Homo sapiens: one gene and its partners. The protein of the gene in region 1 interacts with the protein of each later gene in a biochemical or structural test. Each region holds a gene or a part of one and is shown in the gene's direction. Other genes may lie near its edges.

Region 1 (7,701 bases):
CCAGTTTGAATAGCTGGATAAAATTTCTCTTATGAATCAAGGTTACCTTTTATTTTTTATTTTTATTTATTTATTTATTTATTTATTTATTTATTTTTTGAGACAGAGTCTCGCTCTATTGCCCAAGCTGGAGTGCAGTGGCGCGATCTCGGGTGACTACAACCTCTGCTTCCCAGGTTCAAGCGATTCTCGTGCCTTAGCCTCCCGAGTAGCTGAGATTACAGGCACGCACCACCACACCTGGCTAATTTTTGTATTTTTACTAGAGACAGGGTTTCACCATGTTGCTCAGGCTGGTCTCAAACTCCTGGCCTCAAACCATCCGCCCGCCTCAGCCCCCCAAAGTTCTGGGGTTACAGGCATGAGCCACTGCGCCTGGCCAGCGTTACTTTTTGTTGTGTTTTGTCAGCTGCTAGTGAGCAGCTTCATTTTGTTTGTTAGTATACAATTCATTTGGAAATGTAAATTTTCAAAAATATCAGAATAGCAATATGAGGTACTGCTAGAATGTATTATACTAATAACTAAACTAAGAGGAAAGATTTTTTGCTGATGAGGCAAAAGTTGGTTTCTAGTAACTGTCCTAGAGGCAGCTTAATACTGGTAGAAAACATGGGCCTTGGAGACACTGGGCATGAATCTTAGCCTCACTACTTACAGTCTGTGTGATCTTTTGCAAGTTACCTAAATTTTCGGTGCCCATTTCATTATCTATAAAATTAGTAAAGCTAACTACCTCCTAGGATGGTTGTGAAGATTAAATTAGTTAATATAGACGTAACTCCTAATACAGAGCATGACACTTAGTAAATCAGAAATGTTAGTAGCAATTGTTATTTAAATAAAACAATAAAAAACCCATGAGTAATTAACTATAAAAATCAACTGATAAAAAAATTAGCTGACAGAATAAGAACAGTGGTTGTCAGGGAAGGGAGGAAGAATGGGGAGTTACTGTTTAATGGGTATAGAGTTTCAGTGGTATTTGCACCACCATCCATCACCAGAACTTTTTCATCATCACATACTGAATGTACTTAATGCCACTGAATTGTACCTAAAAATGGTTAAAGTGGTAAATTTTGCATTATGTATAATTTGCACAGTTTGAAAGAATAATGGACAAAATAATGAGCTGACAGTAGATACTAACTGGAAAGAGGTGATAGTGTTTTAAGGATTGAAACAATATAATAAATTACAAAGGAAAAACAAAAATGATCCAGTTTGTTCATGCATTGATTCAAAACACATTTATTTAGCTATTACTAGTGTCAGGCCCTGTTTGAGTTGCAATCCAGAAGACGAGTCACAGATGACAAGTGAAGGGGCTTGGTGGAGCCTTCTAGAAGAGGCCAGTGTCAGAAGAGAACTGAAACGAGGCCACAGTGTGGCTAGAGGTCAGGAAGGGGAAGGAGTGAGGCCCAAGGTTTGCTGGGCCCTTAAGTTTTACCCTAAGAGGGTGGGAAGCTTTGGAAGAGGTTGAAGCAGGGAAGTGAAATGATCCAATTTGCATTTTGGAAACTCTAACCACAGTGAGTAGGGCATACTAAGGGGGATGCGGGAAGTCCTGTGGAGGAAACCAGAGTTCACATTAGTGTTGAGTCAGAAATAAGAATTACTTTATTCTAAAAACTGTCAGCAGCCGTGGAGAAAGGACATTGAACTGCTTTCTTCCCTTGGCAATGTTCACAGTTTTAAATATGAAAGGAAGAAGACAGAGAAGGCACAAAAGGAGGAGTGGGGAAACCTTGATGAAATTACAACACATACATGTTTAGAAGCCCAATACTTTGTTACAGGAAATATATATAGACAATGTATCTCAATCCTAGAGGTGAAAAAATTAGAATACTTATCTTTTTATTTAAATAGGAGATTACATGAGAGATTCTACCATTTGGAACCTAAAGCAGGCCTTAGTTAAATTGAGGTTTATTCAGACCTTGTTTAACTTGGTTAATCAGCTAATCAGGAGGTCTTTTTGTTTCACCTTCTTTATCAGCTCAGAATAAGTCCTCTCAGCACTCCATCTGTTCAAAGCATTTATAGGTACACAGAGAGATCCTCCAATATAAGGGAAGGAATGATGGGGCTGGTTGTATAGTACATCAACTGAAAGTTTGCTGGGGAAGACGCTGAGGTTCTGAAAAATTAAGTAACTTGTTGAACATCACTCAGGACAAAGTTGGGGGCTGTATTAATGAGTTCTTACACTGCTATAAAGAAAAGAGGTTTAATTGGCTAATGGTTCCACAGGCTGTACAGTAGGCATGATGCTGGCAATCTGGTTGGCTTCTGGGGAGGCCTCAGGAAACTTTCAATCATGGCAGAAGGTGAAAGGGAGCAAATGTCACATGGCTGGAGTGGGAGGGAGAGAGAGAGTTGGGGGCAGATGCCACATACTTTTAAATGACCAGATCTCTTGAGAACTCTCAGAGAAGCACTGAGGAGGAAATCTACCCCCATGATTCAGTCACCTCTCACCAGGCCCCGCCTCCAACATTGGGAATTACAATTTGACATGAAATTTGACAGATCCAAACCATATCAGGGACATTGCTGAAATTTGCATTTGTCTCATTGACTTTGGAGCTCTTAGCACCTTAGCACATTGCTTCCTTTATAATATAACGCTAAATGAGAAAGAAGAATACAGATATAGCCGGATGGTAGTGGCATGCCTGTAATCCCAGCTACTCGGGAGGCTGAGGAGAAGAATCGCTTGATCCTGGGAGGCAGAGGGTGCAGTGAGCCGAGATCATGCCACTGCAGTCCAGTCTGGGAGGCAGAGTGAGATGCTGTCTCAAAAAAAAAAAAAAAGAAAAGAATGCAGCTATAATTATGTGTGTGTATATGTACATATGTAAGTAAAGAGGTATAAGGAAAAAGAATAGAAAAGAAAAATGAAAAATATAATTTTATATTTTATTTTTATATATATTTTTAAGCTTATAAGTTTGCAGATTGCATATTAAGTGGTTTTTTCCTCCTTAAATTTTCTTTTTAAGTCAAAACTAGTTAAAGGGGGAGACCTTGGAAGTTTGTCTACATTATTTTTTAAGGTTTTTTTTCTTTGATTAAGTAGAGCAAGTCCTTTTAAAAATATTGTAACATTTCTAATTAAGATTTAAGATAATTTCAAAATGGGGAGCAGTTGACTGTACCAAATGTAAGCTAGTTTCTTAGGTATATTGATTAACTTTTATTTATATATTTTACTTATTTAGGTTTTAGCATCTTCTTCAGCAAATGAATGCATTTCGGTTAAAGGAAGAATTTATTCCATATTAAAGCAGATAGGAAGTGGAGGTTCAAGCAAGGTAAGTATCTTAAAATATTTACGAAATAAATAAAAATATTTTAAACTTTCTGTTTTTTTGTCTTTTTACCTGTGAGGGCTGCTTTTCCTTTACTTCTAGGGGCGATGCTGCCCTTGAGCCAAAAAGCCATCTTAACACCTGCCTTTCTCTTCCCGCTGCCCCTCACATGTGACATATCCTCTTTAGATCTCTTATTCCCAGTCTTCTGCCTTTCCTTTCAATGTCCTGTGCTTCTAAACTTCTTCTTTAATAACAAAAACATTGACATGGGGTAGCGAATGACCACTATGTATTATCACAAAAGAATCAGAAATTTCTGAGTCAGAATGTGATGTAAATTGCTAATATGTTTAGAATCATTCAGCAAGGATTTTTACTAATGGATTTTGTTTTCTTTTGAGTTATTCATTTCAGAAACAGAATTCAGTAACAAATGAATTTCTGGAATTAGATTATTTTCTAAATTTACCTGAGTTCTAAATTTATATCGTTTTACATCTCTGGATAGAAGGCATCTTAAGCATTATCTAAATTTACCATCATTAATTGTCATTCAATTAAATCTACTTCCATTAGATTTTTGCCTTCATCACTCACCAGAATAACTGTAATCAAGAACACTAATGACCTCCATTTTTTTGCCAAATCTAATTCTTAGCTTAGATTTTGGATTACTTAGCATTTGGGACAACTGATTTTTTTTTTCGCAGTGAAGCTTTTTTCCGCACTTGGTTTGTGTTTTTCTCTTCTCAAACTGTCCATACCTATTGTCTTCTTCGTGTTACTGATCTCAGTGAAGCACTGCTCCGGGCTTAGTCCTCAGCATTCTTTCATCTTTTTCTTAAACTCATTCATTGGTGTTCTCTTTCAATCTTGTGGTTTCAAATAACATGTGTATGCTGACAATTCCCAAACTTGTATTTCCAGCTCATACCTCTCCTTTGAATTCCAGACTTGTATATTCAACATCGCTTCTTAGTGTCTACCAGGCATTTAAAACAATATGTCCAAACACAACTCTTGCTCCATAGCTTTTCCCATTTGAGTAAATGGCAGCTTCATTCTTCCAGTTGATTGAACAAAAAATTGGTGCCTCTTACTCTCATACACATATCTAGCCAATCAGCAGATCTTGTTAGTTCTACTTCAAAGTATCTCTAGAATCTATTTCTCACATCTCCAGCATTATTATTTTGGTCAAGGCAACTTTTGTATTTTCACCTAAATTACTTTAATAGCCTCCTAAAGGAATTCATTTACTCAGTCCTTGCCCTCCTGGTCTATTTTTTTAAATTGTATATTGACAAATTAGAGTTGTATATTTTTATGGGGTACAAAGTGGTATTAGCTTTTTAAATACAATATGAAATGATTAAGCTAATTAACATCTATTACCTCAATTATTTGTGTGTAATGAGAACATTAGCAATTGACTCTCTGCAATATTGAAATGTATAATATCCAATTATTATTTTCAGCATGCTATGCTAATCATCTAAAAAAAATCAAACTTGTTTCTCCTATTTGAGGCTTTGTATCCCTTCACCAACATCTCCCCATTTCTCTCAACCTCCAGCCTTTGGTAACCACCATTGTCAAAGGTAGTATGAGCTCTGCTCTATGAGTTTAATTTTTAGATTTCGCATATAAGTGAGAACATGAGGTATTTGTCTTTCTGTATTTAGCCTATTTCAGTTCCTCCTGGCTTATTTTAACATGACATCCTATTTTCCTCTAGATATCCTCATGTGTCTTCTCAGTTAGGCCTTCCTTGCCCACACTGTAAAACTTCAACTCCCACCTTTCAATCACCAGTGTTCTCCATTCCCCACCGGTTTGTTTTTCTCTGTATCTTACCTTCTAACATGTTCTGTAATTTACTTATTTGGTTTGTTGTTTGTGTCCCTCTGCACTTGAATGTGAGCTCCATGAAGATAGGGATGTTTTTCTGATTTGCTCAGTGATATTAGCCCCTGCATCCAGAACAGTACCTAGAACAGATAGGGATTGAATTTATTAGTTGAATTGAGTAAACTGTCTGTCCTCAGCTCTTTTGCTATTGTAAGTTGTTAAGGATGACACATTAAACAGACATTGTTGGACTCATTTTAAGTTTTACTGTAATTTCCTAATCCCACTAACAATAATTAGAATTGCATAAGGCTGTCTTATTAACTTACCAAAAATAAGGTATGTGCATTACCATGTGTATCAACTCTTCAATAAATATTGGTTTCATTATACATTTCCTTTTATCAATCTATTTGAATTACCTAATTTAATTGCTTTCGTAGAAATTACTTGGTTAATATTTATTATTTATTTGTTTTTTGGCTATATTTTAGTAGTATCAAGGTATTGAGACTTAATAGAGGTATTTATTTACTTGTATGTTTTCAGAGAATGTAGAGTAGTCTTAATGGCATTTTAACATTTTTTTCCTTGGAGTATAATGAAGGTGTAAGCTTACTTAAGTCAAGGGCCAAGTGATAAAGCAATGGCTGGCCCATATTTTCTGAATTCAATTAAATTATCATTTAAGTTAATTATGATAGAGTTGAAAAAAATCAAATGCCTCAAAGAAAGTAACATGCTTTATGAAACTAATACCATTTATGCTTTGCCTGTTTCAGAGTTTAGGCAGTGACCAACTTTTAAGGAGGCTATTGAGAGTATCTAGAACAGTCATGGGGTAATGAGAATGGTCAAGACACTGGTAACTTCCCATAAAACTAACAAATCACAACTCTGACACTATCTCTATGAAACTGAAATAAGGCTTACCTAAACCGGATTGCAAGAGTTTTGCCAGAACAGAGACAGTGGGGGCAATAATAAACTCATTCATGCAAAAATTGCTAAATCTAGGCACAATAGAGAAAACAACATCTGTGAATTGAATTGACTCTGTATCATAGCCTTTAGTCATCCTTAACTTTTTTATTTTTCCTTGAGACCGTGTCTCACTATTTTGCCGAGGCTGGACTCAAACTGCTGGGCTCAAGCAATTGTCCCACCTCAGCCTTCTGAGTAGTTGGGATTAAAGGAGCAAACTACTGCACCAGGCTTGTCCTTAACATTTTGGAAAGTCTTTTTCTTTATGCTGTTTCCCTGTTTAGGGCATCCAACAGATTGTTATATATATCTGAAGTTTAAACTTTTCTTACATGTTGATATAGAAACTTTAGATTTATACCTTTAAATTATTGAATGCCCATCATCATAGGTCATTGGGAATGGACTGTTACTCTGCTATCAGAATTATTTTTCTTCCTTCTACACTCAAAATAGGCCCAGAAACTTTTAATGTTCATGTCAGTATTTCCTTTAGAATTTTCTCAACCTAAAATCCTAATAAATTTAGAATCATTGTGTGATAGTGTATAAATAGTATATTCTAAACTTCTCTTTGTTCTACTCTGTAGGTATTTCAGGTGTTAAATGAAAAGAAACAGATATATGCTATAAAATATGTGAACTTAGAAGAAGCAGATAACCAAACTCTTGATAGTTACCGGAACGAAATAGCTTATTTGAATAAACTACAACAACACAGTGATAAGATCATCCGACTTTATGATTAGTAAGAATTCTTTTTAAATTTAAAAAGAAAACTTTTTGCCATAATTCTTCAGGTAAATATTTAGTAAACTTTAATATAACCTAGCCATTTATTGTTTTGTTGCTTTTATTTGTTTAATTGCAGTGAAATCACGGACCAGTACATCTACATGGTAATGGAGTGTGGAAATATTGATCTTAATAGTTGGCTTAAAAAGAAAAAATCCATTGATCCATGGGAACGCAAGAGTTACTGGAAAAATATGTTAGAGGCAGTTCACACAATCCATCAACATGGTATTTAACAGTTTTTTTATATTTGTAAGGTTAAAATCTTTGTTAATAGTGTCATCTTAGAGAAATATACCTATAATTTTAGGGCATTGGTTATTGGTGTCTTTAACGAGATCAACTAAATAATTAGAAGTTTATTTAAAGATAAAGGAACAAAACCATTTCTTAAAACACCGTTAACCCAAAGGATATAGGACATCAACTCAAGTTCCGACATCTGTAATACAAAATGTATTTTTCTCAGTATTAACGTAGTCTGTCATCCTTATCTCCAAATACTTGGATTATAGCAGGTCTAAGACTTTGGGGTTCAGGCATCCTGAAAATATGAGATGTTTACTTTATTCATTCTCCTAATCATTTTGTATTGTATGCCCTGTGTGAGAAGTTGGTTTTTTTGTTTGTTTTTTACTGTTAGGCCTACCTTCTGGGTTGGTTTTTACTTGTCCTTGGTTCTTTTTAGGGTTTTTCTCTGCCTTTACCTTATCCTATATATTTTTTTGTTCTTAATAACTGTTATCCT
Region 2 (8,632 bases), on another chromosome or scaffold:
AGAGTACTCTATCAAGGCTTAATTTAGAATTTTGATAGAAAAATGTAAGTCAGTATTTTTGCAACCTACAACCAGAAAGAGATTTTAAATACAATTTTAAAAGGATTAATCAATAAGGAAAAATATCTATGACTGTTATTACATTTTTTGGGGGGTGGGGGATGAAGTCTTGCTCTGTCGCCCAAGCTGTAGTGCAGCAGCACGATCTCAGCTCAATGCAACCTCCACCACCCGGGTTCAAGCAAGTCTCATGCCTCTCAGCCTCCCGAGTAGCTGGGATTACAGGTGCGTGTCACCACACCTGGCTAATTTTTGTATTTTTTGTAGAGACAGGGTTTTGTCATGTTGGCCAGGCTGGTCTCAAACTCCTGACCTCAAGTGATCCACCCACCTCGGCCTCCCAAAGTGCTGGGATTACAGGCGTGAGCCACCGCGCCCAGCCTGTTATTGTAAAAAATTTAAGGATTTCTGTTTAGGAAATGACACTATGGACAAAGTTAATAAGCAGCTAACAGAGTAAGAGAAGATATTTACAAAGTCAAAATCTGACAAGAGATTAATATCTAGAATTTCAAAGAATACCTTCACATCAACAAGAAAAAGGTAATGACTACATACAGAAATGGGTGAATGATATGAACAGCCAATTAAAAAACCAGAAAACCAAAAACTGAGCATGCACAGGAAGTGCTTAAAATCATTAGTAATCAGAAATATAATTTTTTTAAAAAAGATAACATTTCACACTCATTACACTGCCGAAAGTTGTGAATCAGCATGATGTCAAGAATTGGCAGGGGTGTGGACATACAGGAACCCTCATGCAAGGGCGGTGGAGAGCAAGCTGTCATTACTCAGGCAAATAAAATAGACGTCTGTCACCCAACGGTTCCACTGCTGTGTGTACGGAACGCTCTCACACAGTTTATAAAGGAACATGTAGGAATATGTTCACTGTAGTATTATTTATGATGTTCACAGTGGGGAAGGTAGATGGGCGAAATATGGTGGATGTACACCATGGGAAATGCTGTGGCAGGCAGGCACGATGGATTAGAAATCACATTGTGTTAGTTTCCTAAAGCCATTGTAACAAATTACCACAACTGGGTGGCTTAAAACATCAGAAATTTAGCTTCTCTCAGTTCTTGAGGCTCTAAGTCCCAGATTAAAGAACTTGGCACGGCCATGTTATGAAGTAAATAATACTACAGTGGATATGTTCATGTATGTCCCTTCGTAAATTGTATGAGGACTTTTTGTACACAGGAGTGGAATCACTGGGTCGTAGACATACACTTTATTTGACTAAGTAATGACAGCTTGCTCTCACAGCAGGGGAGGATACTTCCTTGCCTCTTCCAGTTTCCGGTGGCCTCATGTTCTTTGGCTTCTGGCATAATGACTGCAATCTCTGCCTCCATCTTCAGAGGGCTGCCTTCCTTCTGTCTTTGTCTCTGTTTTCTTATTTTTATTTTTATTTTTTTTGAGACTGAGTCTCACTCTGTCGCTCAGGCTGGAGTGCAATGGCACAATCTTGGCTCACTGCAACCTCCACTTCCGGGTTCAAACAATTCTCTTGCCTCAGCCTCCCGAGTAGCTGAGATTAAAGGTATGTGCCACCATCCCCAGCTAATGTTTGTATTTTTAGTAAAGACGGGGTTTCAACATGCTGGCCAGGGTGGTCTCAAACTCCTGACCTCAAGTGATCCGCCCCCCTCCCAAAGTGCTGGGATTACAGGTGTGAGCCACCTGGCCCGGGCGTCTCCCTTCCCTCCCTCCCCCTCCCCTCCCCCTCTCCCCCCTCCCCTCCCTTCCCCTTCCCCTTTTCCCTTCCCCCTTCCCCTCCCCTCCCCTCCCCTTCCCCTCCCTTCCCTTCTCTTCCGTTCCCTTTCTTTTGAGACAGAGTTTTGTTCTTGTCGCCCAGGCTCAAGTGCAATGACTATATCTCGGCTCACTGCAAACTCCACCTTCCAGGTTCAAGCAATTCTCCTGCCTCAGCCTCCCAAGTAGCTGGGATTACAGGCACCCACCACCATGCCCAGCTAATTTTTGTATTTTTAGTAGAGACGGGGTTTTACCGTGTTGGCCAGGCTGATCTCGAACTGGCCAGGCTGGTCAAGGCGATCCTCTCGTCTTGACCTCCCAAAGTGTTGGGAGGTGTGAGGCACCGAACCCAGCCTGTTTTCTTATAACAGCAATTATATTGAAGAGGGTCTATCCTGAATTGAGTATGACCTCATCCTACTTGATTACATCTACAAAGACCCCTCTCTAATTAAGGTCACATTCACAAGTACTGGAGGTTATAATTTCTACCTGTCTTTTTGAGGAACACAATTCAACCCACAACAAAGAATAGCAGGAACTATTTTTAAAATGTAGTTTTTAGAGCTGAGCATGGTGGTGAGCACCTGTAGTCCCAGCTACTCAGGAGGCTGAGGCAGGAGGATTGCTTGAGCCCTGGAGTTTAAGACAAGCCTGAGAAACATAGTAAGAACCCCTCTCTAAAAAAAATTTTTTTAATTAGCCAGGCATAGTGTCATGCACCTGCAGTTCCAGCACTTTGGGAGGCCAAGGTGGGAGAATTGCTTGAGGCTAGGAGTTCAAGACCAGCCTGAGCAACATAGCAAGACCCTGCCTCCACCAAAAAAATGTTTTTTTACTTAGCTGGGCATGTAGCCTCTGTAATCCTAGCTACTTAGGAGACTGAAGCAGGAGGATCACTTGAGCCCAGGCATTTGAGGTTATAGCGAGCTATGACCGTGCCACTGCACCATAGCCTGGGCAGCAGAGTGAGGTGCTGTCTCTTAGAAAAAAAAGTTTTTCATAAAAAAAAAGAAAACAATATAATATATACAATAACATGCAGGTAGGTAACTTTAAAATACATTTACCCCAAAAATTATGTTTCAGAATTTATAAAATTCAGCTAAAGGAGTTCTTAGAGGAAAATTTATAGTTTAATAGTTTAAATGCCTTTACTTAAAACAAAAAAAGGTTAAAATCATAAGAAACAAAAAGAAAGAAAAGTAAAGTAAACCTAAAGTGAGCAGAAGAAAGGAAGTGATGAAGATAACAATGAAAATCAGTGAAACAAACAAATGGAAAAACAATTGTAGTAATTAATAAAACCATGAGCTGGTTCTTTGAAAAGACAGGTAAAATTAATAAACATCTAGCTGGACTAGTGAAAAAAGGAGAGGACACAAATTACCAAAATCAGAAATGAAAGGACACAACAAAGAAAACAACAGAGTGAGAGAAAATATTTGCAAACCATATATCCAATAAGGGGTTACTATCCTATTCTAAATATGTGAAGAAAGCAAACAACTCATAGCAAAATCAGATCACACGACTAAAAAGGGGGCAAAGGGCACCAGGTGCACTGGTTTACACCTGTAATCCCAGTGCTTTGGAAGGCTGAGACAGGAGAATTGCTTGAGGCCAGGAGTTGTGAAAAGCCTGGACAACATAGAAAGACCTTGTCTCTACAAAAAAATTTTAGATTAGCCAGGTGTGGTGACATATGCTTGTAGTCCCAGCTACCTGGGAAGCTGAGGTGGGAGGATCACTTGAGCCCAGGAGTTAGAGGTTGCAGTGAGCCATGATTGCAGCACTGCAGTACAGTCTGGGCAACAGCTTGATAGCTTGAGACCCTGACTCTTTAAAAAAAAAATCATTTATCAAAAGATGACATACAAATGATCAACAGGTTCATAAAAATGCTCAATATTGGCTGGGCACAGTGGCTCACACCTGTAATCCCAGCACTTTGGGAGGCTGAGGTGAGCAGATCACCTGAGGTTGGGAGTTCGAGACCAGCCTGACCAACATGGAGAAACCCTGTCTCTACTAAAAATTCCCCAGAGGCTGGGGAATAAGGGGCTGGGGGAGATAATGGGGAGATGAAGATGTTGGTCTCAGGGTACAAAGTTAACAGTTAAACAGGAGGAATACAATTTTGAGATTTATTGCACAGCATAGTGACTATAGTTAATAATAATTTATTGTATATTTCAAAATTTCTAAGAGAGTAAGTTGAAAATATCTCGCCACAAAAAGAATGATAAGTGGGCTAGGTGCAGTGGCTCATACCTGTAATCCTAGCACTTTGGGAGGCTGAGGCAAGAGGATCACTTGAGGCGAGGAGTTCAAGACCAGCCTGGGCAACATAGCAAGACCCTGTCGCTACAAAAACTTTTTTTTTTTTTTTTGAGACGGAGCCTCGCTCTGTCGCCCAGGCTGGAGTGCAGTGGGGCGATCTCGGCTCACTGCAGGCTCCGTCCCCCGGGGTTCACGCCATTCTCCTACCTCAGCCTCCCGAGTAGCTGGGACTACAGGCGCCCGCCACCACGCCCGGCTAATTTTTTGTATTTTTAGTAGAGACAGGGTTTCGCCATGTTGCCCAGGCTGGTCTCGAACTCCTGACCTCGTGATCAGCCCGCCTCGGCGTCCCAAAGTGGTGGGATTACAGGCCTGAGCCACCACGCCCGGCCCCAGGGGACATTCTAGAGGGGACTTCGCCCCCCAAGCCGCACTTCTCCATTTCCCTGCGGTCGTCGCTAACCGAAGGCGCCATCCGGTGACGACTGGATGTGCGCGGCGGTGGTGAGAGGCCGCGAGAACCACCAGGTCCACCGCTGCCTCGGCCCGGGCGGAATCTGGGAAGGTCTCTGACAACCATTCATCCTCAGATTTTCCCAATTGTGCATGGGTGGGCGGGCCCCGCATCCTAATGGGCACTGGGCATGTGAAGTGTGAACCACCCGGGCCTAACTAGCCGCTGAAGGCCTGACGAAACCGCCAGGCCCACCAGGGGGCAGCAGAGATCCGACGGCCGCGGACCGAGGGAAGCTGGCGGGAAGTAGGAGGCAGAGGGCGCGCAGGGAAGCGGCAGGGCGAGCGGCTCAGAACGTAAAAGCCAGCACCGCGCCTCCAGGTTGCTTTACGGCTGCCGCAGAAGGCTTTGCGGCTCTTTTCCCCTCCGACTTGATTTACGGTTCCTTCTCTGGTCTGTGTTTTTTTTTTTCCCCCTCCGGCGCTGGGCGTGGGTTCGGACCTTCTTCCCAGAGACGCTCGCGCACCCTTCCCATTCTCCTCTGCGCGGCCTCCATCTAAGATCTCTTCCCCTTGTCCATAGCCTAGATCGAGCTCCCTGTGTGCACCGCGCGCTGCCCGAGGCGCGTAAGTGGGGGAGGAGAGCGGCTTCCCCCGGGGTGGTTCTAGCCGTGGGTGTGGAGCGTGGGAAGGCTCAGCTTCCGGGTCGAGAACCTGGGGCTGCGGTGGACCTGATCCTGAGGTCTCAGCGTAGAGATGCTGAGTCCAGAGGCCTGTTCTAGTTCACCAGTGCAGTGAGGGGCTCAGTATCCGGGCCTCCCGAGAGGTGGGTAGGAAGGCGGGGTACAGGAAACTTGGCACCAACGCGCCGGGACCCCACCGCGGTGCGGACAGCCAGGTGTCCGTGGTGGCGCTTCCTTGGAGATGCTGCCTGCAGACAGGCGTGGGGAATCTGAAGTTTGTGTTAATAGCTAAACGAAGTTGAGTTGCAGGGAGCGGGGGACGCTGGGAAGAAATGATTGATTTAAAAGGAATTTGACGCCGGGCATGGTGGCGGCATGCCCCCATGTTCCCTGGAGGTCAAGCCTGCAGTGAGCCGAGATCGCACCCGTACCACGACACTCCGTCCCGGGCGACAGAGCGAGACCCTGTCACGGGGGAAAAAATAAAAATAAAAATTTGACGCTCACTTTAGCTGAGTATTGAGCCTTGTTATAACATTGAGATAGAGGTCTGGCGCGGCGTCTCACACCTGTAATCCCAGAACTTTGGAAGGCCGATGCGGGAGGATCGCTTGAGGCCAGGAGTTCTACGCCAGCCTGGCTAACATAGCGAAACCCCGTCTCTACTAAAAATACAAAACTAGGCAGGCCTGGTGGCGGGCGCCTGTAATCCCCGCTACTCGGGAGGCGGAGGCATGAGAATCGCTTGAACCCAGTAGGCAGGTGTGCCGGTAAGCCGACATCGCACCACTGCACTCCAGCCTGGGGGACAGAGCGAGAATCCATCCAAAAAAAAAAAAGTTATAATTCACGTACAATTAAATTCACTCCCTTTTTTAAAAAAAAGTGGAGACATAGTCTCGCTCTGTTGCCCAGGCTGGAGTACAGTGGCGCCGTCTCGGCTCACTGCAACGTCCGCCTCCTGGGTTCAAGCGATTCTTTGCTTCAGCCTCTCAAGTAGCTGGAATTACAGGCGCATACCACCACACCCAGCTACTTTGTATTTTTCACCATGTTGGTTAGGCTGGTCTCGAACTCCTCGCCCTTCCAAAGTTCAGGGATTACAGGTGTGAGCCACCACACCCAGTCTAAATTCACCCTTTTAAAGTGTGCAATTCAGTGGTTTTAATATATTCACAAGGTTGTGCAATCACCACTATTATCTAATTCCAGAACATTTTTATCATCCCTAAAAGAAACCTTAAAACCATTAGCAGACACCCATTATTTCCTCCTACTCCCAGCAGCACTAATCTATGAATTTACCCATTCTCAGTACTGTATTATACAATATTTGTTCTTTTGTGTTTGGTTTATTTCACTTCATGATTCAAAGTCCATCTATGTTGTATGTAGCATGTATCAACTTCATTTTTTAAATAACTGAATTATTTATTGTGTGGATATACCACATTTTGTTTCTCCATTTTTGATGGATACTGGTGATTTTCTAGGCTTTCTAGGTCTAGTCCTCCACAGAACTCGCAGTCTGAGGCACAGACATTTAAAACTTAAGTTTTTGGAAACTAGCATTTAACTCTTGGGTTGGGTCAGGTAATTCAGTGGCCTCAGGTCTGGTATCGTTTAGGGCAGTTTTTTTTTTGTTTTTTTTTTTTTTTTGAGATGAAGTTTCACTCTTGTTGCCCAGGGTGGAGTGCAATGGCGTATCTGGGCTCACTGCAACCTCACCTCCTGGGTTCAAGCGCTTCTCCTATCTCAGCCTCCTCGGTAACTGGGCTTACAGGCGCATGCCACTATGCCCGGCTAATTTTTGGTATTTTTAGTAGAGACAGGGTTTCACCATGTTGGCCATGCTGGTCTCGAACTCCTGACCTCAGGTGATCCACCCATCTCGGCCTCCCAAAGTGCTGGGATTACAGGTGTGAGCCACCGCGCCTGGGTGGGAGTTTTGTTTTTTTGTTTGTCTGTTGTTTTTTGGGGGGACAGAGTTTCTCTCAGCCTCCTCGGTAACTGGGCTTACAGGCGCATGCCACTATGCCAGGCTAATTTTTGGTATTTTTAGTAGAGACAGGGTTTCACCGTGTTGGCAATGCTGGTCTCAAACTCCTGACCTCAGGTGATCCACCCGCCTCGGCCTCCCAAAGTGCTGGGATTACAGGTGTGAGCCACCACACCTGGGCGGGAGTTTTGTTTTTTTGTTTGTCTGTTGTTTTTTTGGGGGGACAGAGTTTCGCTCTTGTTGCCCAGGCTGGACTGCAGTGGCGAGATCTTGACTCACTGCCACTTCTGCCTCCTGGATTCAAGCGATTCTCCTGCCTCAGCCTCCCGAGTAGCTGGGATTACAGGTGTGCACCACCACACCCGGCTAATTTTGTATTTTTAGTAGAGAAGGGGTTTCTCCATGTTGGTTACGCTGGTCTCGAACTCCCTACCTCAGGTGATCCTCCCGCCTTGGCCTCCCAAAGTGTTGGGATTACAGGCGTGAGCCACTGCGCCCCTCTGGGAGTGTTTTTTAAAGTGTTCTATTCTCAGTTCACCACTTACCAGGCCGTTAATTATCGTGGTATCAAGCAGAGAAATGTTTGTGTGCTGGTCTTCTCAGGGAGGCAGAAACCGTCAGAGATTGCTGTTGTGTAATGTACACCAAAACGTGTTATCTTGTAGTATAAACGGTGTAGTTGGAGATGAGTGTATGAAAAATGTAACTGAGCTAGCTGTGGGAGAGACTAGTTGTGAAAAATTTTGAGTCACCCACTGTATGCTTTCCCAGCTATGTTCAAATAAGGTGACACTCTGCCTTCCTGTTTCAGCTCTAAAACTGTTCATAAGTGTTATTTTGGCTGTATACGTAGTGCCATGTTTTTTTGTATTTTTGTGCTTTTGGTGATTTTGCTGTTTATAGGGGCCTCCAAGAATAGAAGTGCTGTCTAGCATTTCCAAGTTGAAGGCTGTGATATATCTTATAGAGAAAAGATAAGCTTTTAGATTAGCTTTGTTCAGGCATCACTTTTGTTGTTGGCTGTGAGTTCATGTTACTGCATCAACAATATATATTAAATAAGATATCTTTAAACAGAAGCACACATAAAACAAGGTTATGTATTGGCCTGTTGAGTAACCCTGTATTTCCCCTGGGAGCAGTGGCTCAGTATTTGCTAGTTCAGTGTTCATGATGGCTTTACAGGACATAACTACCCTGAATAATGAGAACTGACTGTCTCAGTAGTGCTTCAAGGGCAGAAAGCCTAGTGGATATTTTTCCATCTCTGCAGCTTTTAGCATTTCTTCACTCAAGGCACTCATTTTTAATATTGAACTGGCAGTTTTGATGTGGAGAGAAGCTAAAATAAGGCTAAAATGCTCTTCATACTATGTGCTGAGTGGGG
Region 3 (7,701 bases), on another chromosome or scaffold:
GGGGTTTCACCATGTTGGTCAGGCTGGTCTCGAACTCCTGACCTCAGGTGATCCCACCCCTGGCCTCAGCCTCCCAAAGTGCTGGGATTACAGGTGTGAGCCACCGCGCCTAGCGAGTGCATGGTTTTCTAAATACTTGTTGACTTAAATGTTCTCAGTTGCCTGTGCATATGTAAGTTTTAACAAAATATTGATTCTAGAGTCTAACATTTTCTTTTCAAGATTGTAAGAATGGCAGAATTTCATGAGCCACTTCCTTGTTTATGATAGATTATGCATTCTCCCCTCTTGCTGAGTTTTTATGGCTTTGAGGTTTATGATTATGATTTTTTTAGGGCTGTGGCAGAAATTCTCAGGAGCAGCATGCCTTGAAGCACTATCTGACGCCAAGATCTGAACCTCACTGTCTGGTTCTTAGTTTGGACAACTGGAGTGTATGGTGAGTTTCAGTTCCTCTGCCTCTTGGGTGGAAATTATTTGAAATATTAGAGAATGGAAATGTTTAAATATGTTTAAGAAGAAAGCAATTTAAAATTTTTGTAGTATGTTTTAAAATACCATCACTTTCACAAAGCTAAAGAATGCAGTATTATGAGAAGCTTTTACTTGGACGTTTGCACAAGCACAAACATTGTAACATAGAAGACTTAAGAATCTTTACCCCTTTGTTTTTCTTGCTTGTGATATTATAAGGCATATAGTGGAGATAGGGACGCTAAGAACAAATTTCAGATAAAATTGTAATAAAATTTTGGCTATGAATTTGCATGAAAATAAATGTCAGTCTGGTATGTTATAGATGCTGCATTGTAACATCATTAAAACAGATTTTTACGTCTTAAAAATCATTTTCACAGTAGTCTTCACTGAATGACATCTTTTTTTTTTTTTTGAGACGGAATCTTTCTGTCGCCCAGGCTGGAGTGCAGTGGTGTGATCTCGGCTCACCACAACCTCCGCCTCCCAGGTTCAAGCAATTCTCCTGCCTCAGCCTCCCGAGTAGCTGAGATTACAGGGATGCACCACCACGCCCGGCTAATTTTTGTATTTTTAGTAGAGACGGGGTTTCACCATGTTGGTCAGGCTGGTCTCAAACTCCTGACCTCGTGATCCCCTTGTGATCCGCATGCCTCAGCCTCCCAAAGTGCTGGGATTACAGGCATGAGCCACCGTGCCTGGCTTGAATGGCATCTTTCAATTGTAAAAGTTGTTACTTTTGTCTGGCTAACACGTTGAAACCCCATCTCTACTAAAAATACAAAAAAAAAGTAGCTGGGCATGGTGGTGGGTGCCTGTAGTCCCAGCTACTCGGGAGGCTGAGGTAGGAGAATGGCATGAACCAGGGAGCTGGAGGTTGCAGTGAGCCGAGATCCTGCCACTGCACGCAGCCTGGGCAACAGAGCGAGACTCCGTCTCAAAAAAAACCAAAAAACAAAACAAACAAAAAAAAGTTGTTATTTTTGTTAGTGTTATTCTGTATTTTAAAATATATGTAAACAATCTTTTGACTTCAATGTTATAACCAGTAAAGTAAAACGTTTGGAGTATTTCATCATACTACTTATATGCAGCCATAATTCTGGCTAATTTTATTAATAATAAACCAGAGTTAATATGCATAGTCTTCTTCAGGAAAACAGAATTTTTACGTTCGGTTTCTTTAATAGAATAAGTTGGCAGTTACACACTTTGATTCCAGGAATTATTATTTGTCTCCCCCTTTTTAGTTGTCATTTTGTCATTTTTCATCTCTGATTTTTGGGTCACAGGTGTTACGTATGTGATAATGAGGTCCAGTATTGTAGTTCAAACCAGTTGGGTCAAGTGGTTGATTATGTCAGAAAACAAGCCAGCATTACAACTCCAAAGCCAGGTAAAATAATTTGTTTCTTTAATATACACCAAATGTCGATTTGTGTATCTGCTGATACTTAGATTTGTTATACTACCTAGCATTACATACAGCTGAGTAACATTAGTTATGGTTGATTGCAAACTATGAAACTATTTTTGGTTTAACTATAAGGTATTAGAAGGGATATGAGAAATGATCTAGTCAGATGTGATGAAGGCCATAGACTAAGGTAATGGCCATTAATGCTAAGACTAAGGTAATTCCCATAACCCTAGCCAGGCTTACTATAGACCTGCCTTACACTGTTCTTACTGTCGTACATTTTGTAATAGCAAGATTTCAGTCTGTCTGCTGGGATAACATAAAGCATTTGTGATTCCTTCTAATGGTCAGATATTTCTTAGGTTCTTTCCATGCATAATTAAATTAATTGGCTGACATACAGCATTTGCTTTAAGCATGTTTTTTAAGTTTTTATTGTCACAAGTATCTTTGTCAGAGCCAGAATTATTTGTTTTTTACTTTAGGATTGATTTTTGACCCACAGAATTCATTAAAAAATTTATTTCATGTCCATGTTCTTGATTGTTTTATATTCTTAATTTCACAAGGTAAGATGTGTTCATTTGTAAAGAATTTTCGTGCAGTAAAAAAGGGAGATTTATACCAAAGCACATACTGTTTGGTTTCATTTATCAAACTAATGCTTACTTTAGGTCTGAGTATTTTTTGTTTACTGGGTTTTGTGTTTTTTTTCTGGATGGCAATTTACCTGTATCTATTTAAAATCAAATGGGTGGGTGGGTTGGAAAGAATGACTTCAGGTAAACTCACAAACTCTAGTACTGTTTCCCAAGTATACTTCTGCATTCGATATGACTGTATTACACATTTTGCTAAATCTTTTCTTTTTTTAAAGCAGAGAAAGATAATGGAAATATTGAACTTGAAAATAAAAAATTAGAAAAAGAGAGTAAGAATGAACAAGAGAGAGAAAAGAAGGAAAACATGGCTAAAGAGAATCCTCCCATGAATTCTCCTTGCCAAATAACCGTGAAAGGACTCAGTAATTTGGGAAACACATGTTTCTTCAATGCAGTTATGCAGGTACATTGTCATTTTTTTCCCTTTAAAAAAGCTGTCCTTTTCCTCATAGAATCTGCTACTTACATTATTGAGTTTTTTCCACCTGAGTAATTTATTTCTATGTATCCAAAGAAAACTTTTTTTTTTTTTTTTTTTTTTTTTGAGACAGGGTCTCACTCTGTCACTCGGCTGGAGTGCAGTGGCACGATCGTGGCTCACTGCAGCCTCTACCTCTTGGGCTCAAGCAGTCCTCCTACCTTAGCCTCCAGAGTAGCTGGGACTACAGGCATGCGCCACCACTCCCAGCTAGTTTTTGTATCTTTTGTAGAGACAGGGTTTCGCCATGTTGCCTAGGCTAGTCTTGAACTCCTGGGCTTAAGCCGTCCACCCCCTTTGGCCACCCAAAGTGTTTGGATTACAGGCGTGAGCCACCATGCCTGGCCAAAGAAAACTTAAGGAAAGTTTTATTGCATGACAGTAAGAGAGTTTGGTGAGCACTCGGGTGCAGTGGGTTTGAAAGAAATATTGCTGCTTCTTTCATGGAGCTTGCACTTGGGTGGAGGAAACACAGGATAACCTCATATAGAAGCAAATACGTACCTACAGGTAGTGGTAAGTGGTTGTGAGAGAGTCATGGTGGAGGATTGGGGATAGCTACTTCTGATTGGGTGGTGGGAGAATGCCCCACTGAGGTGATGAATAAGCTCAGAACTGAAGTAGTTATGACCCAAATAGAGTAGGGAGAGAAGCATCTGTAACTTTTCATTTTCCAAGTATAGAGTTTTCAGTGTTGGTCATGATTTTCTGTTTTGATAGAATAGACACTTAAGAAGTGTCAGAGTTGATTTGCCTTTAAATAATTTTTCTCTTTTTTTTTCACCCTACATTCTAGAACTTGTCACAAACACCAGTGCTTAGAGAACTACTAAAAGAAGTGAAAATGTCTGGAACAATTGTAAAAATTGAACCACCTGATTTGGCATTAACAGTATGTTCTTTAAACTTTTCTAGTCTGTAACTTTCCTCTCTGAATGTGTGTTTTCTAAATTATTTTAAATAACTGACACTCATTTCCACTGTTTTTGTTTGTTTTGTTTTACTTTAGGCTACTAACTTAAACAGTTTCAGGCTAATAGAAGTTATAAGGAGGCATTACATCTGTTTGCTGTGTGTGTGCTCTGTTTTTCTATGCTCGAGTGTTAAGCTTCCTTCTTGGGAATGTGTATATGTTTGAGAAGCCTTAGGCTTACATTATTATTTTTAACATCTTTAAGGTGACTTAAGAGCTGTGTAACCAAATAAATATTACCTTATCCATTTTTATTATTTACATTTTGCTTTGGCTCTTTCAATTCTTAGGTAGTAAGTGTTCCAGATAATCTAAAACTAAAATAGTAGAGCTGAATTCTGCATAAGACAGTCTGTGACCAAACAGTTTCTATCTCTTTTGATGTACATTTTAAACTTTTAAATGGGGCAGTTCTGTCAGGAACATTGGTAGTATATGTTAACTAATTAGATTTTAGTAAAGTCAGTGATTCCAGAATTTGACTGAAGAAAGTAATTTCTTTTCCCATATTCAGGAACCATTAGAAATAAACCTTGAGCCTCCAGGCCCTCTTACTTTAGCCATGAGCCAGTTTCTTAATGAGATGCAAGAGACCAAAAAGGGGGTTGTGACACCGAAAGAACTCTTTTCTCAGGTCTGTAAAAAGTGAGTATCCACTTCGATTGTGCTTTCAGTGCCTCAGTGAGATGCTGAGAAATAATATTAATATTAAATAGTAAAATATAAAAATATTAATAGCATTACATTTAGTCAACCCTCTATATACAAAAGGCATAGTTTTTTTTCATTTGGATTTTAAAATATATTTTATGTGATAGTTAAATCTCCCAAGGGTGTTAATGGACTAAACGGAAATTTGTAGAAACCAGAACTCTCTGAGATTTGGGATATGATCCTAAGATTTTCTAAAAATAGCTTCAGAGCTTAGTAGACTGAAGATTGCTTTTCTGTCTTTTTGTTTTTCTCTAGAGCAGTGCGGTTTAAAGGCTATCAGCAGCAAGACAGCCAGGAGCTGCTTCGCTACTTATTGGATGGGATGAGAGCAGAAGAACACCAAGTTAGCATGTTATGACCATTGTATTTTATGATCTTATCTTCATAAGCTTTCTGTCTCATTTGATATCTTACGAGTTAAAACAATGAAAGCTAGTTATTAAGGCCATCATACTTTAAAATTTTTTCTTACACCAGCTTTTTCAACTAGTATGTTTTCACCATTAGAATGAATCCAGAGAATTAGCAGTAATTCTCTTTCTCATGATGGCTTAAGTTTAGTTGATGTTTACAGCATTAATGTTCTTTAAAGATTCTGTTGTACTAACCTATACGAAGAGAGCTGCCAAATATTGGAAATTGTTTCTCCCAAACCCAGGTGCAGCACACCCTTACTTTTAATTCTGAGTCTGATTTAATACTGTTTTTTGAACCTAGGAAGTATTTTCATTTTGTAAGAGTCAGGGAACATTGGTTGCATTTTAAAATTTTTGTTACTTGCCAGGATATAAAAAAATGTATTTGGGGTATGAATTAATGAGTACTAATAATAGTGATAATAACTAATATTTATTTCGCACTTATTTTTATGCCAATCACTGTTTTCAGTGTTTTGTATTAATTCCCTTACTTCGTTCTCACAAAGTTTCTGTGAGGTGGATACTGTGATTTTTTCCTATTCCATAGATTGAGAATCTAGGCTGTAGAGAAGTTCAGTACCTAGTTTAAGGTCCCCCAGAAATAATGGAGCTGGGCTTTAAGCACTGGAGTCAGACCCTGTGGCTGTCATGTAATCATTGTGCTTGTAGGACAAGCTATTTCAGTTTCTTCTCAAAGGTGGTGGGCATGTTCTGAAAACCTTTGGCTTGAAGAGGTTTAAGATCTTGAAATGATAAGATAATACCTTTATTCAATGGTTAGTGATTGCTTTGTGACATAATTCCTTTTTAGCTCCTTGAATTAAGTTTGAAAATGTGATTTTGGAATTATTTAGTAAATATGGGGAGCTGTATCCTGATCACTTTCTTGACTTGATTACATATTTCTAAGGAAAATAAAATTTAAAATTTAATAGTATATATATATCCATTTTATTACTTTTAGAGAGTGAGTAAAGGAATACTTAAAGCATTTGGTAATTCTACTGAAAAGTTGGATGAAGAACTAAAAAATAAAGTTAAAGGTAATGTCTGACTTTTTGAACTAAAACACTATAGTTGAATTCCTCTGTACCTTAGGACAAGATTGCTGGCACATATATTTCCAAGTCCACAATTATTAATGTATAATTTCTCTTTATCAACGTTGATTAGTAAAAATTATTCAGTGCTCCAGAAGTGAACAGTTTTACCCCATGGTGTATTCTTTTTATGTATTAAAGATAGAACTATGATGAATTACAGTTTTACTTTTCAAAAGCTTAAAATTATAATTAGCAGTAATACATGAATTATATTTGTTACTGTGAGTTGTCAGTAGTTGGTTTATTAATCATGGAGCCAACTTAGTTCTTATTATGTGGCGTGTAAAGATTTAGGGCAGATCTGCCCAGTAGAACTTCCTATGTTGATGGAACTCCTCTATACCTTTGCTGTTCCATATAGAAGCAACTAGGCACGTGTGGCGCCTGAAATGTGACTGGTGAAACTGAGGAACTACATTTTTATTTTTATTTAATTGTAATTAAATTTAAATAGCCGTAAGTGACTAAGGGCACTGTATTATAAAGCACAGATTTGAATCAACTCATAGCAACTCTTTGCCTCCTTGGTGCCCTTTAGAGCCTGGCCAGTAATGGAGAGAATTACCCCTGCTGGCATTTTCTGTCAGAAAAGTGTGGTTCTGCATAAATTATCATTTGAATAATGCTTATAGGTTTCACGTATTTGGAAAATTGGCTGATCAAGTAGTAAAATTATGGCTTTTAGTTATATTAAACTTATCAAGATTATTTCTGGGAGCATAGGAAAATAAAAGGAAGATTTTGTTTGAAATATTTTCCTGAGGTTTTTCTTTTGTTTTTAAAATATCAAAGGAGTTCAGTCTTAGAGTTCACAAAACAAGTTACATGCATTTTCTCTCCCAGTTTGCTACTCTGGTATCTTTTATCAGTCTTGAATGTTAGAATGTTAGAGCTAGAACTAAGGAACTAGGCTGTCATTCAGCCTACTCTGAGCTGTTCATTTTATACTAATGGAGAGAGAGAGAAAGACATAGAAGTCTCACTGACTTGCACAGTTTACTTCCCACTGACTAGATCTTGGATAAGGACTTTTTTGTCTTATTCATAAAAGGCGATTGTGTTCAATTATGTTATGCTCAGAGGTGGAATATATAATACTGACTTCTATTGCTTAAAAAAGGTGATTATGAATGGAGGAAGAAGTCTGTGGGACAGGAAATTTAAAATAAAATTTTAGAGTTAGATAGGTAAGTAGTTTTAGCTTTTCTTGTTTAATTAATTATATAACGGTAATTGGTAATTGATAGACTTTTTTTTCTCCATAGATTATGAGAAGAAAAAATCAATGCCAAGTTTTGTTGACCGCATCTTTGGTGGTGAACTAACTAGTATGATCATGTGTGATCAATGCAGAACTGTAAGTAGATGTCATGTATACTGGGTTTATTTGCTAATATTCAACAGTTTATCAATTGTTTATTTCAAAAGCAGAAATCTCTACCTTCATAGGATATC

The links.
Region 2: of the proteins of TTK (region 1) and RAD52, one has a biochemical effect on the other in vitro, tested with the Homo sapiens proteins (one study listed by BioGRID).
Region 3: of the proteins of TTK (region 1) and USP16, one has a biochemical effect on the other in vitro, tested with the Homo sapiens proteins (one study listed by BioGRID).

Annotation. Positions count from the first base shown.
Region 1 is NC_000006.12:80,028,237-80,035,937, forward strand, and holds part of TTK (dual specificity protein kinase TTK), read left to right. Parts: intron 1-3,230; coding exon 3,231-3,323; intron 3,324-6,748; coding exon 6,749-6,906; intron 6,907-7,029; coding exon 7,030-7,181; intron 7,182-7,701.
Region 2 is NC_000012.12:946,160-954,791, reverse strand, and holds the start of RAD52 (DNA repair protein RAD52 homolog), read left to right. Parts: upstream 1-5,097; 5' UTR 5,098-5,190; exon of another isoform or gene 5,191-5,389; intron 5,390-8,632. UniProt on the Homo sapiens protein: Involved in double-stranded break repair. Plays a central role in genetic recombination and DNA repair by promoting the annealing of complementary single-stranded DNA and by stimulation of the RAD51 recombinase.
Region 3 is NC_000021.9:29,034,502-29,042,202, forward strand, and holds part of USP16 (ubiquitin carboxyl-terminal hydrolase 16), read left to right. Parts: intron 1-335; coding exon 336-439; intron 440-1,769; coding exon 1,770-1,873; intron 1,874-2,774; coding exon 2,775-2,962; intron 2,963-3,833; coding exon 3,834-3,929; intron 3,930-4,524; coding exon 4,525-4,655; intron 4,656-4,979; coding exon 4,980-5,067; intron 5,068-6,107; coding exon 6,108-6,186; intron 6,187-7,511; coding exon 7,512-7,603; intron 7,604-7,701. UniProt on the Homo sapiens protein: Specifically deubiquitinates 'Lys-120' of histone H2A (H2AK119Ub), a specific tag for epigenetic transcriptional repression, thereby acting as a coactivator.